Linked DNA regions of Homo sapiens. The protein of the gene in region 1 purifies or fractionates together with the protein of each later gene. This does not show direct contact. Each region holds a gene or a part of one and is shown on either strand. Other genes may lie near its edges. The genes, in order: ZNF24 and CKM.

What was found.
Region 2: the proteins of ZNF24 (region 1) and CKM purify together in Homo sapiens (affinity purification with mass spectrometry; 2 studies listed by BioGRID and IntAct, with this or other methods). This does not show direct contact.

What each region holds. Positions count from the first base shown.
Region 1 is NC_000018.10:35,331,431-35,334,421, forward strand, and holds the end of ZNF24 (zinc finger protein 24), read right to left. Parts: 3' UTR 797-2,991; downstream 1-796. UniProt on the Homo sapiens protein: Transcription factor required for myelination of differentiated oligodendrocytes. Required for the conversion of oligodendrocytes from the premyelinating to the myelinating state.
Region 2 is NC_000019.10:45,319,702-45,327,257, forward strand, and holds the start of CKM (creatine kinase M-type), read right to left. Parts: upstream 3,175-7,556; 5' UTR 3,120-3,174; intron 31-3,119; 5' UTR 13-30; coding exon 1-12. UniProt on the Homo sapiens protein: Reversibly catalyzes the transfer of phosphate between ATP and various phosphogens (e.g. creatine phosphate).

The DNA.
Region 1 (2,991 bases):
CTATCTTTTCTCCAATGTCACTTTCTCAGTGAAAACCTTCCCTGGCCAGCCTATCTAAATTGCACTATCTTTCCTTCTTGACATTTTGTATCCCTTTCCTATTTTCTCCCTAACCACTTCTCATCATATGACATACAATATGCTTTCTTAAAAAACTGTTTCTCATTTACTTTTGGTTTTCCACTGCCACGTGTAGTTTTTCACACACGCAAGCAACAGATGTAAATCCCATAACAGTGCCTGACCCAGAGTAGGCATTTAAATGTGTTGAATAAAAGCTTGCAAAATGTTTTCCTCAATTTTGAAAGACATCTCTTTGAAAACTCCATCTTAGGAGATGTGATTAATAGAGGTGCCAGGTGACATAGAGCGCTGCTACATTTCTGGCCATAGAAAAGAGCCCACAGGGTGAGGCTGCTCAGGTCTGTGTGTGCTCATTCACGTCTTGAGTCCACAGGCCTGAGAATGAAACAAAGAGCCAGAGAACCATGGAGTTGGGATGGAGGTCATTGGAAGGGCTCCAAGGGTTGTATACAGGGAATGCTTGAGGGGAATCCCCCAAGAACAATGGTAGGAGATGGGTACAGCTCTCAGCAGTGTAACCCTTAAAGTCCCAGGTTAATGAGTCTAGAGGAAGAATAAGAAGAGAACTGCCAAAGAGGCAATTGTGTAAAAAGCTGTTCATCCACATTCCCAACATCAATGTTGTTACTATTGGAATGTAAAGTGTATGTGTGTGGGGTGTGTGTTATAGGGAGAATGGAGTAACAAATGGCAAAAGTTGACACAGGCCAAATCATGGAAGGCCATGCTAATTTTATTAACTTATATAGTGCATAAAGTCTAGAATTTAAAATTACAAAGGTTTTCTACAAATCAATAAGAAAATACAAATAACCTATATTAATCAGAACAGAAACTCAATTCAATTATCTTAAACAAGAAAGGGACTTTATTGGCTCACAAAACTTTAAAGTCCGGAGGTAGGGCAGGCTTTAGGCACAGCTGGATCTAGGGCCTCCAGAAAAATGACATCAGAACTTAGTTCTCTTTCCATTTCTGCTAGCATCCGAGTTTCTCCTCAGACAGACTCTCTCCACATGGCACAAATTCAGGCTTACATGGTCCTTGGTTCCTGGGATCTCCATAAAGCCTTCTTTCCAGTAGTTCCAGCAGAAGTTCTGTTAAGGGCTTTCCTTAGCCTGGCTTAAGTTATATACCCATTCTTTTATCACTGTGGCTAGGAAGCTGTGGGACTCAGGAGGCCAGGCCTGGTCACATGCTCACCTAAGCCACAGGGAATAGGTTCCCCACAAATAAATAAAGGTTGTGTTACCAGAAGATGGGGAAGGAGATGCTGAACAAATAAAAACAATATATCCACACATAACCCAATAGAAAGCAGGTAAGGGATACAAACAATCCACAGTAAACTATAAATGGCCAATAAACATGAAAATAACCCCAATCTCACCATTTTTTTTTATAATCAGGGAAATGCAAAATAAGAAAAGGTTCTTTTTCGCCCAACAGATAAAAACTATCAAGTGTAGGTATGGTTATATGGGGAAATGAACATTCTCCATACACTTGGTGAAAATACAGTTATGAAGGCCTTTGGGAAGACTGAAGGTGGACAGAGAACAAACCCTTTGATCCAAAAATCCACCTTACTGGACTCCAGACTAAAGAAATATTCACACACATGCACAAAGACATCTGAATAGGATGTTTACTTTGGCAATGTAATAGCGAGAGGAAAAAAATTAAGGGAATAAATAATGGCATTTTCATAGTATTTAATCATATTCAACCATTAAAGAAATTTAAAGACCTGTTATCTTTTTTTGAGACCAAAATTTTAAAAAGCTACAGAATATGAGATCCTATTTATGTAAAAAGTGTTTTTATGTGTATGTATATTCGTACGGAAAGGTGACTAGAGGATGTATGTTAAACTGTGGTAAGTGGAATGTGATTGGTAGCATTGGAGAAAAGGGTCTCTCTATTCAAAGAACTGTGTTTTTTATACAATGAGAAGGTAGTCATTAGACTTTCATAATTAAAAAAAGGAAAATGGGCAAAAGCAATTCATAATAGGAAATGCAAATGGCCAAGAAACATGAAAAGATGTTCCTCCTCATTAATATTCAAAGAAAAGAAAGAAATTTTGCCTACCAGATTGGCAAAAATTTTTAAGGATTCAGGGTTGGCAGACTATAGGCAAACAGGCATTCTTACTAATGATGGAGTTGTAAATTGGTGAAATCTTTTTGGTAGTAGTTTTCAAAACTGCAAATGTGAAACCTGATCCAATAAATTTCTAGTTATTCATCCTACAGAAATACCCACACAAGTAGCAAAATACATGTACAGGAATGTTAATTACACTTCTATCTATAATGAACCTAATTATCAATCCATAGGGGATTAAATAAATTACAGAATATTCATGCAATGGAATAGTATATAGTTATGAAAAAAGAACATCTTCAATGTGGGGGGAGAGGAGGCAAGTCTCAGTGTAGTGCATGTGAAATGGGGTTATGTCCTACTTTATACGGTAGCTGAGGATTAAGAGTTAATCCATGATAAAGCACTTCAAATAGTGCCTGTCACAGCAACCACAGGTGTCAGCTGTTAACACATTATTGATTAAATAAGTATATGCCTAAATCTGGAAGAACAAACGAAATTATCATGACTTCTCGGTAACACTGTGAAAGGAAATATCCTTTTTCATTTTACATTTCTGCACTGTAAAAAATTCAAACCAGCAATGTTTAATAGCTTTCACATTTGTTAACCATAAACACAAATTTATCAAGGTTTAATAGCCACCACCCATGGCATGGTGAATATGTCCCTGGAGTCTACAGAACCAGATTTGAATTTTATCTCTAGGCCACATGCAAGTCACATGATCTCTGAATCTTGCTTTCCTAGTCCACAAATCTAAGTGAGATAGGTACGGTGTCTAAGCCAATGCCT
Region 2 (7,556 bases), on another chromosome or scaffold:
ACCGAATGGCATGGTGGCGGTGTAGGAGACCTGATGGGCAGGGCAGGAGGGGAAGATTGAAGATTAGCTGGCATCTTTTTTCTTCTTCTTCTTCTTTTTTTTTTTTTGAGACGGAGTCTCGCTCTGTCACCCAGGCTGGAGTGCAGTGGCACGATCTCGGCTCACTGCAAGCTCCACCTCCTGGGTTCACACCATTCTCCCGCCTCAGCCTCCCGAGTAGCTGGGAATACAGGCGCCCGCCACCACGCCGGCTCATTTTTTGTATTTTTAGTAGAGACGGGGTTTCACCATGTTAGCCAGGATAGTCTTGATCTCCTGACCTTGTGATCCGCCCGCCTCGGCCTCCCAAAGTGCTGGGATTACAGGCGTGAGCCACTGCACCCGGCCTTTTCTTCTTTTTTTTGAGATGGAGTCTCACTCTGTTACCCAGGTTGGAGTGCAGTGGCGAGACCTCGGCTCACTGCAGCCTCCACCTCCCAGGTTCAAGAGATTCTCCTGTCTCAGCCTCCTGAGTAGCTGGGATTACAGGCGCACACCACCATGCCTGGCTAATTTTTTTGTATTTTTATTAGAGATGGGGTTTCACCATCTCTACTGGTTGGCCAGGCTGGTCTCGAACTCCTGGCCTCAAGTGATCCACCCGCCTCGGCCTCCCAAAGTGCTGGGATTACAGGCGTGAGCCACTGTGCCCCGCCTAGCTCGCATCTTGCAGACAGCAGCAAGAGAACTGGGCAAGGCGTTGGGGTCAGGCAGGCTGTGTAACTTGGAGCAAGAGAAATCCTCTCTCTGAGCCCCTGTGTCTCAGCAGGAAGGCATCCGGAGTCTTAGATCAAGGGCCTGGCTCTGCCGTATCCCAGTTGGGTGAGCCTGGACTAGTCATTCTTGCTGGAAACTCAATTTCCCCAGGTGGAAAACGGGCCCCTCCCGGAGGCTGGAAAAATATTTTGTGTGGGTAAGAGTGTAGGTTCTGGAATCAGCCCAGGGTTTGATTCCCAGCTCTGCTACCTACAACCAGCTGTGTGGCCAGGGGCAAGTTGCTTAACCTCTGTGCCTCAATTTACTCATCTAGAAAATGAGGATCCTAACAGCACTTGCCGCATGGGAGTGTTGAAAAGATTAAATGTGTGAATACAGGTGTAGCTCTCGGAACAGTGCCTGGTACACAATAAGCATTATTTCACTTAGCTGCTATTATTATTATTATTATTATTATGTTTGAGACAGAGTCTCGCTCTGTCGCCCAGGCTAGAGTGCAGTGGCATAATCTCAGTTCACTGCAACCTCCACCTCCCAGGTTCAAGCAACTATCCTGCTTCAGCCTCCTGAGTAGCTGCAACTACAGGCGTGTGCCACACCTGGCTATTTTTTTTTTTGGTATTTTTAGTAGAGTTGGGGTTTCGCCATGTTGGCCAGGCTGGTCTTGAACTCCTGAACTCAAGTGATCCGCCCACCTCTGCCTCCCAAAGTGCTGAGATTACAGGCATGAGTCACGGCACCTGGCCTGTTGTTGTTATTTTAAAGGTTCGTGCGAGGAGCTGGTGAGAAGGTGGAGGTGAGGGTGCTGCTGGGAGTATGTGAGCAGGTTCTTGGATTATCAATCCAAAGACAAAGGGCTGGGTCGGGGGAGGGCTGGGTAGCTGCCCCCACCTCTGCCTGCTGACAGTTCTCCCACAGGGCTCAGAAGGGAAGAAAAGCTCAGCCTCTGGGTCGTCAGAGGCAGGTTCAAATCCCACCTATGCCATTTCCCTGCTGTGTGACCCCAGGCCAGTCACTAGGCCTCTCTGGACCTCTGTCTCCTGTGAACTGAGCCTGCCCCGTAGGATTGCCAGGATCCTCTGAGCTTGGCCATGAGGTTGGCTGAGCACAGGCCCTGGCATGGAGTTGGAGCCTGGAACCCTGGTGGCTGCTATTATTGTTATTTGTTATTACTACTTTTTTGCAGAGATGGGGTCTCACTATGTTGCCCAGGCTGGTCTGGGACTCCTGGCCTCAAGTGATCCTCCAGCATCGGCCTCCCAAGATGCTGGGATTATGCGTGTGAGCCACTGCGCCAGGTCCTACTGTTATTATTATTTTATTCACTGGACCCAGAAAGGAGAAGGGACCCAGAAAGGAGAAGGGGCCTCCAGCAGCGGTGGGAGACGGGGATGGGAAGCAGGTGGGATTGTGGGAGGGAGATTGGGACCACGGTGAGCTGAAGCCAGGGAAGAGGAACAGGGACCCGCCAAAGACCTTGGGTGCTGCTGTCCAGGGTGGTTATTTTTAGAATCTGGCAACTGCCTGCCATCCCACCCCCAGCTGCTGCCCCGCCCCACCCCCACATTCCGGGGCTCGGCTTGCACCAAGTCAGCAGGCCCAAGACAGGTGGGCCAGGGTGGCTGGGAGGACACGGGTCCAGGCCTCGGGGCTCAAGGACATCCTGGGATGGCAGCCCAGACCCCCTCCCTTCAGAGGATGCCCCCCTAATCCCTGCCAGGGACACCCCAGGAGAGGGCACTGAGGCAGGGTGGTGACCCCCCCCACAAGAGACATAAGCAGAAAGCCCCAGAGCCACACACCCCCACCACCGCAGACTCCCCAGATCACACTGTAAACTAAGTCACACAGTCACACTTCCAAACTCAAGGACATGCCCAGGACACTCATGTGTCCGCTACTAAGTCAGAAACAAGGTCACAGGGACCCACACAGTAGCAAACGCAAAGAAAGCCTGCGACACCTGCTCTTGCAGACTCTGCTAGGCGACAGACACACCTCCCACGGCTTGTGGCGCCAGTGTTGGCGACAAACTGTAATGAACACAGGCCTGGCTCAACAGCCCCTTGCAGGGGGTGACAGTTGGCAGCTGTCAGGACCCCTTTCATCTCGGATCCCTCCCCATAACCCAAGACTTGTGCCGCAGAAATCACAGGTCCCAGTGGGGGGTTCAGGCAGCCTCACAGATGGAGGGGCCTCCCAGACACACAAGGGTCAACCTTCCCACGCACCGACCTGCCTTTGTATAGGAGGATGTTGGTGGAGCAAGGGGTGACACACAGACCCTTTCCCAAGCCAAGCCTCTAGCACCCACAGAAATCCCCTACTCTGGCCCCCACCCAGATTCCCGCCCCGTGCAGTACCTGGCTGGGCTGGGCTGAAGGGGGGCTGTCTGTATCCTGGAGGTGACACTGACCCAAAGGAAGGGCCAGCAGCCGTGGCCTTATATAGGGGGACCTAGGCTGTGCTATTGGCTGGGAGGGGTTGTCCCCAGGGAGGAGTTCTGGAGGGCAGCTGAGCCTCTCACCTCCCTGCTCCCGCACCATACCCACCCTGAACCCAGGCATGCTTTGCGCCCAGCCCCATGGCCTTGTATGGGCTGAGCCGCCCCAGGGGCTGGGCTCACGCCCCCCCACCAAGCTGATACCCTGACCAAGTGCTGAGTTGGGCTGGCGGTGGGGACAGCTGGCCCCCCGCCGGGAACATGGGACGGTGGCTGGGAACGTCCCAAGCACGTAGAAGCCACCGTCCCCTGGCCCCTGAGTCTCCTTCAGCCACCAGCCCTTCCTGTGGCCCTCGGCTCCCCCTGTGCCCCCTGGGCCCTCACCCCTACCCGAGTCCCAGCGGCACCTCGGGGAACCAAGGTGTGGCTCCAGGAGGAGCAGATACCCTGTGAGCTGGAGGAAGCAGAGGCCGGGAGAAGGACCAATTGCAATGGAGGGCAGTCTAACCCCAGAAACCCGCGCTTGGGCGCCCCTTCCTCCTAGGGACTGAGTGGAGGGGAAACTGAGGCTGGCTGAGTTGGAGAGATTCAAACTCAGGGCAAGGGTGGGAGGCGGTGGTCACCCTCCCCCCCACTTAACCCTCGCCCCCTCGGTGCCACTGGGAGATTTCCGCTGTGCGGGGGACAGGGAGGGTCTCGGTCGCCGGGAAAGGAGTTATTTTTAGAGGGCGCTTTGCTGTCTCCTCTGCCGCAAAGGCCGAGACCCGAGGCGCTGGGTATGGGGGGGTTCGGGGGCAGGTGTTGGAGGGGGGTTCGCCACGTGTCCTGGTTAATTATAACCGGGCGTCTCGGGTGTCCTCGGGCCTCGCCTCCTTACAAGGGCAGCCACGGGGCCCTGGGTGGCCGCTCCCACCTCCCGGGGAAGGGGGCTGGGCAGCGACGCCGTTCAGAGCGCGGGCGCCAGACTCGCGCAGATCTGGGCAGAGCAAGCGCTCTCGGCGCCTCGGCTGTGAGCAAGGACTTCCAGGGCTGAGAGGGGGGTTCTGTGGAGGAGAGTACAGTATAGAGGAAGCCGCTTTCTCCTCCTGGGACGCGCCAGGATTGCAGGCTGATCGGGTCTCCTCCTCCAGGGAGCTCCCAGGATTGCGACGAAGAAAAGAATGTCCCTTCCCTCTGAGTTCCTCCCTATCCCAGGGTCTCCTGGGTCTCCTTCACATCTTCTTAGGCAGGTGAGGACTGGCTTAGAGAAAGGGAGCCTCTGTGCCTCTCCCTCAGACTCCTGATCTGAGGGGGGAGGGGAGAGGGGTGCTTTAGAAATATTTACATGGGGCCCAGCCCTTTCCCAGCAAGCTCAGATTGCCGAGGGTCTCCTTCACGGTTACGGAAACTGAGGCCCAGAAAACCAAATGGAACTGGTCTCGAAACAGGGATCTATCAGGCACTTCCTGAGGCTACAACAAAACACAAAACCCCCGCCGTCCTGGAGGTGATAGTGCAAGAGGGTCACAGATGAGGGGACGGCACAGCAGCAGGGGAGGTCGAGGCAGGCCTCTTTGGGAAGATGACATCTGAGCAGAGACCTGAAGGAGAACAGGGAGCCAGCCATGTGCGGCTCTGGGGGGAACAGCAGGTGCAAAGGCGCTGAGGTGAGAATGGCTGGGCACATCTGAGGACAGACAGGAAGGAGGCCAGGGGACTGGAGCAGATGGGGCCAAGGAGAGAGTGGGAGGAAGAAGATGAGGTTGGAGGGGAGACAGGAGCAGACCCATGGTGCCCTAGGGGCTGTGGGAGGAGTTTTAATCCCATTGTGATTGACAGTGAAAATGTTAGATGGGCCGGGCACAGTGGCTCAGGCCCGTAATCCCAGCACTTTGGGAGGCAGAGGCGGAGGCGGGTGGATCACTTGAGGCCAGGAGTTCAAGACCAGCCTGGCCAACATGGTGAAACCCCATCTCTACTAAAAGTACAAAAATTAGCCTGGCATGGTGACACACGCCTGTAATCCCAGCTAGCCAGGAGGCTGAGGCATAAGAATTGCTTGAACCTAGGAGGTGGAGGTTGCAGTGAGCTGAGATGGCACCATTGCCCTCCAGCCTGAGTGACAGAGCAAGACTCAGTCTCACAAAAAAAAAAAAAAAGAAAAGAAAAGAAAAAGAAAATGTTAAATGAACCAGGTATAGAAAGACAAACATCACAAGTTATTTGTGGGATCTAAAAATCAAAACAAGGAGGCTGAGGCAGGAGGATTGCTTGAACCCAGGCAGTCGAGGCTGCAGTGAGCTGTGATCGAGCCACTGCTGCACTCCATCCTGGGCAAGAGAGTGAGACCCTGTCTCACACACACAAAAATTAATTAAAATAACTAAAGGAGTATAATTGGATTGTTTGTAATATAAAGGATAAATGCTTGAGAAGATGGATACCCCATTCTCCACGATGTGATTATTACAAGTTGCATGCCTGTATCAAAACATTTCATGGCCGGGTGCAGTGGCTCACGCCTGTAATCCCAGCACTTTGGGAGGCCGAGGTGGGCAGATCACCTGAGGTCGGGAGTTCAAGACCAGCCTGATCAACGTGGAGAAACCCTGTCTCTACTAAAAATACAAAATTAGCCGGGGTGGTGGCACATGCCTGTAATCCCAGCTACTCGGTAGGCTGAGGCAGGAGAATCGCTTGAACTCGGGAGGCAGAGGTTTCTGCGGGCCGAAATCGCGCCATTGCACTCTAGCCTGGGCAAAAAGAGTGAAACTCCATCTCAAAAAAAAAAAAAAAAAAAAGAACAAAACGTTTCATATACCCCATAAATATACACACCTACTAAATACCTACAAAAAATTTTTTAGAATAATTTTTTAAAATATTAAATGGAAAAAATCATCATCATCATCCCACTGTGAGACTGACAGGAGGCACTGAGGGTCATAAGCAGGGAAGAGGCTGGATCCATGCCACACGCATTTTGGGTGGCACGGTCCAGCCACACCTTGTGGGAGGGTTTGTTTTTTTTTTTTTTTTTTTGAGATGGAGTCTTGCTCTATCACCAGGCAGGAGTGCAATGGTGCGATGTCAGCTCACTGCAACCTCCGCCTCCCAGGTTCAAGCGATTCTCCTGCCTCAGCCTCCCGAGTAGCTGGGACTACAGGCATGGGCCACCACGCTCTGCTAACTTTTATATTTTTAGTAGAGAAGGGGTTTTGCCATGTTGGCCAGGCTAGTCTCAGACTCCTACCTCAGGTGATCCACCCACCTCGGCCTCCCAGAGTGCTGGGATTACAGGCGTGAGGCACCCTGCCGGGCCCATTGCACATTCTTTTTAGCCACACAGTGCCAGAAGCCTTTTCTATGTTCGGGGATTCCCCACTGTAAGCCCTCCTCCTTTGGAGAAGCCAAAGATGCCAGAAACTCAATTTCCCAGAATCCCTTGCAGCAATGGTCCAGGCCAGTGACCTGGGCTGAGCCAATCAAACGCTCCAGCAGGACCTTGTGCCGTGAGCTCCCTCTGCTTTGAGTCTTAAAGAAACAGTTGGCCTTGGGGAGCTTTACAACCCTCATCACGTATCTTCATCCCACCCCCCAGAGCCCGACTGTCAATCCGACCTCTGCCCCTCCACTGCCCACTCTAGCTCAAGACCGCCTCCACTGTCCCTCCTGACCCAACTTCCTCCCTGGACTCCTGTCCCAGTCTTTGCCATTCCCACCTAAACCCTACCTGCTGACCTCCCCTCCTCAGAGCTTGCCATGGCTCCCCAGTGCCCTCAAGGTAAATGAGTATTTGTTGACTAAATAAATAATAGTAACTGTATCTGGCAGATGTAGGCGAGAGTAACCACTACCCAGCTTAAATAGAAAGGACTCTGCTATTGGCTGGGCGCAGTGGCTCACGCCTGTAATCCCAGCACTTTGAGAGGCCGAGGCGGGCGGATCACGAGGTTAGGAGATCGAGACTATCCTGGCTAACACGGTGAAACCCTGTCTCTACTACAAAAATATACAAAAAAAAAAAAATTAGCCGTGCGTGGTGGCAGGCGCATGTCGTCCCAGCTACTCCGGGGCCTGAGGCAGGAGAATGGTGTGAACCCGGGAGGCGGAGTTGCAGTGAGCCGAGATCGCACCACTGCACTTCAGCCTGGGCGACAGAGCGAGACTCCATCTCAAAAAAAAAAAAAAAAAAAAGGACTGTACTATCATGTATTAGGCACTGACAAAATCGTTGGAAGGGCTGAAGGAACACTGCTCGGGCCCCAGAACTACTTTCCTACTTTCCCTCTGGAAAATCTAGTCTTTAGCTTTCCAGCCTCTTCATTGACAGGAGAATGTGCTCGAAGGAGGTTAACATGGACATTAAACAGCCACT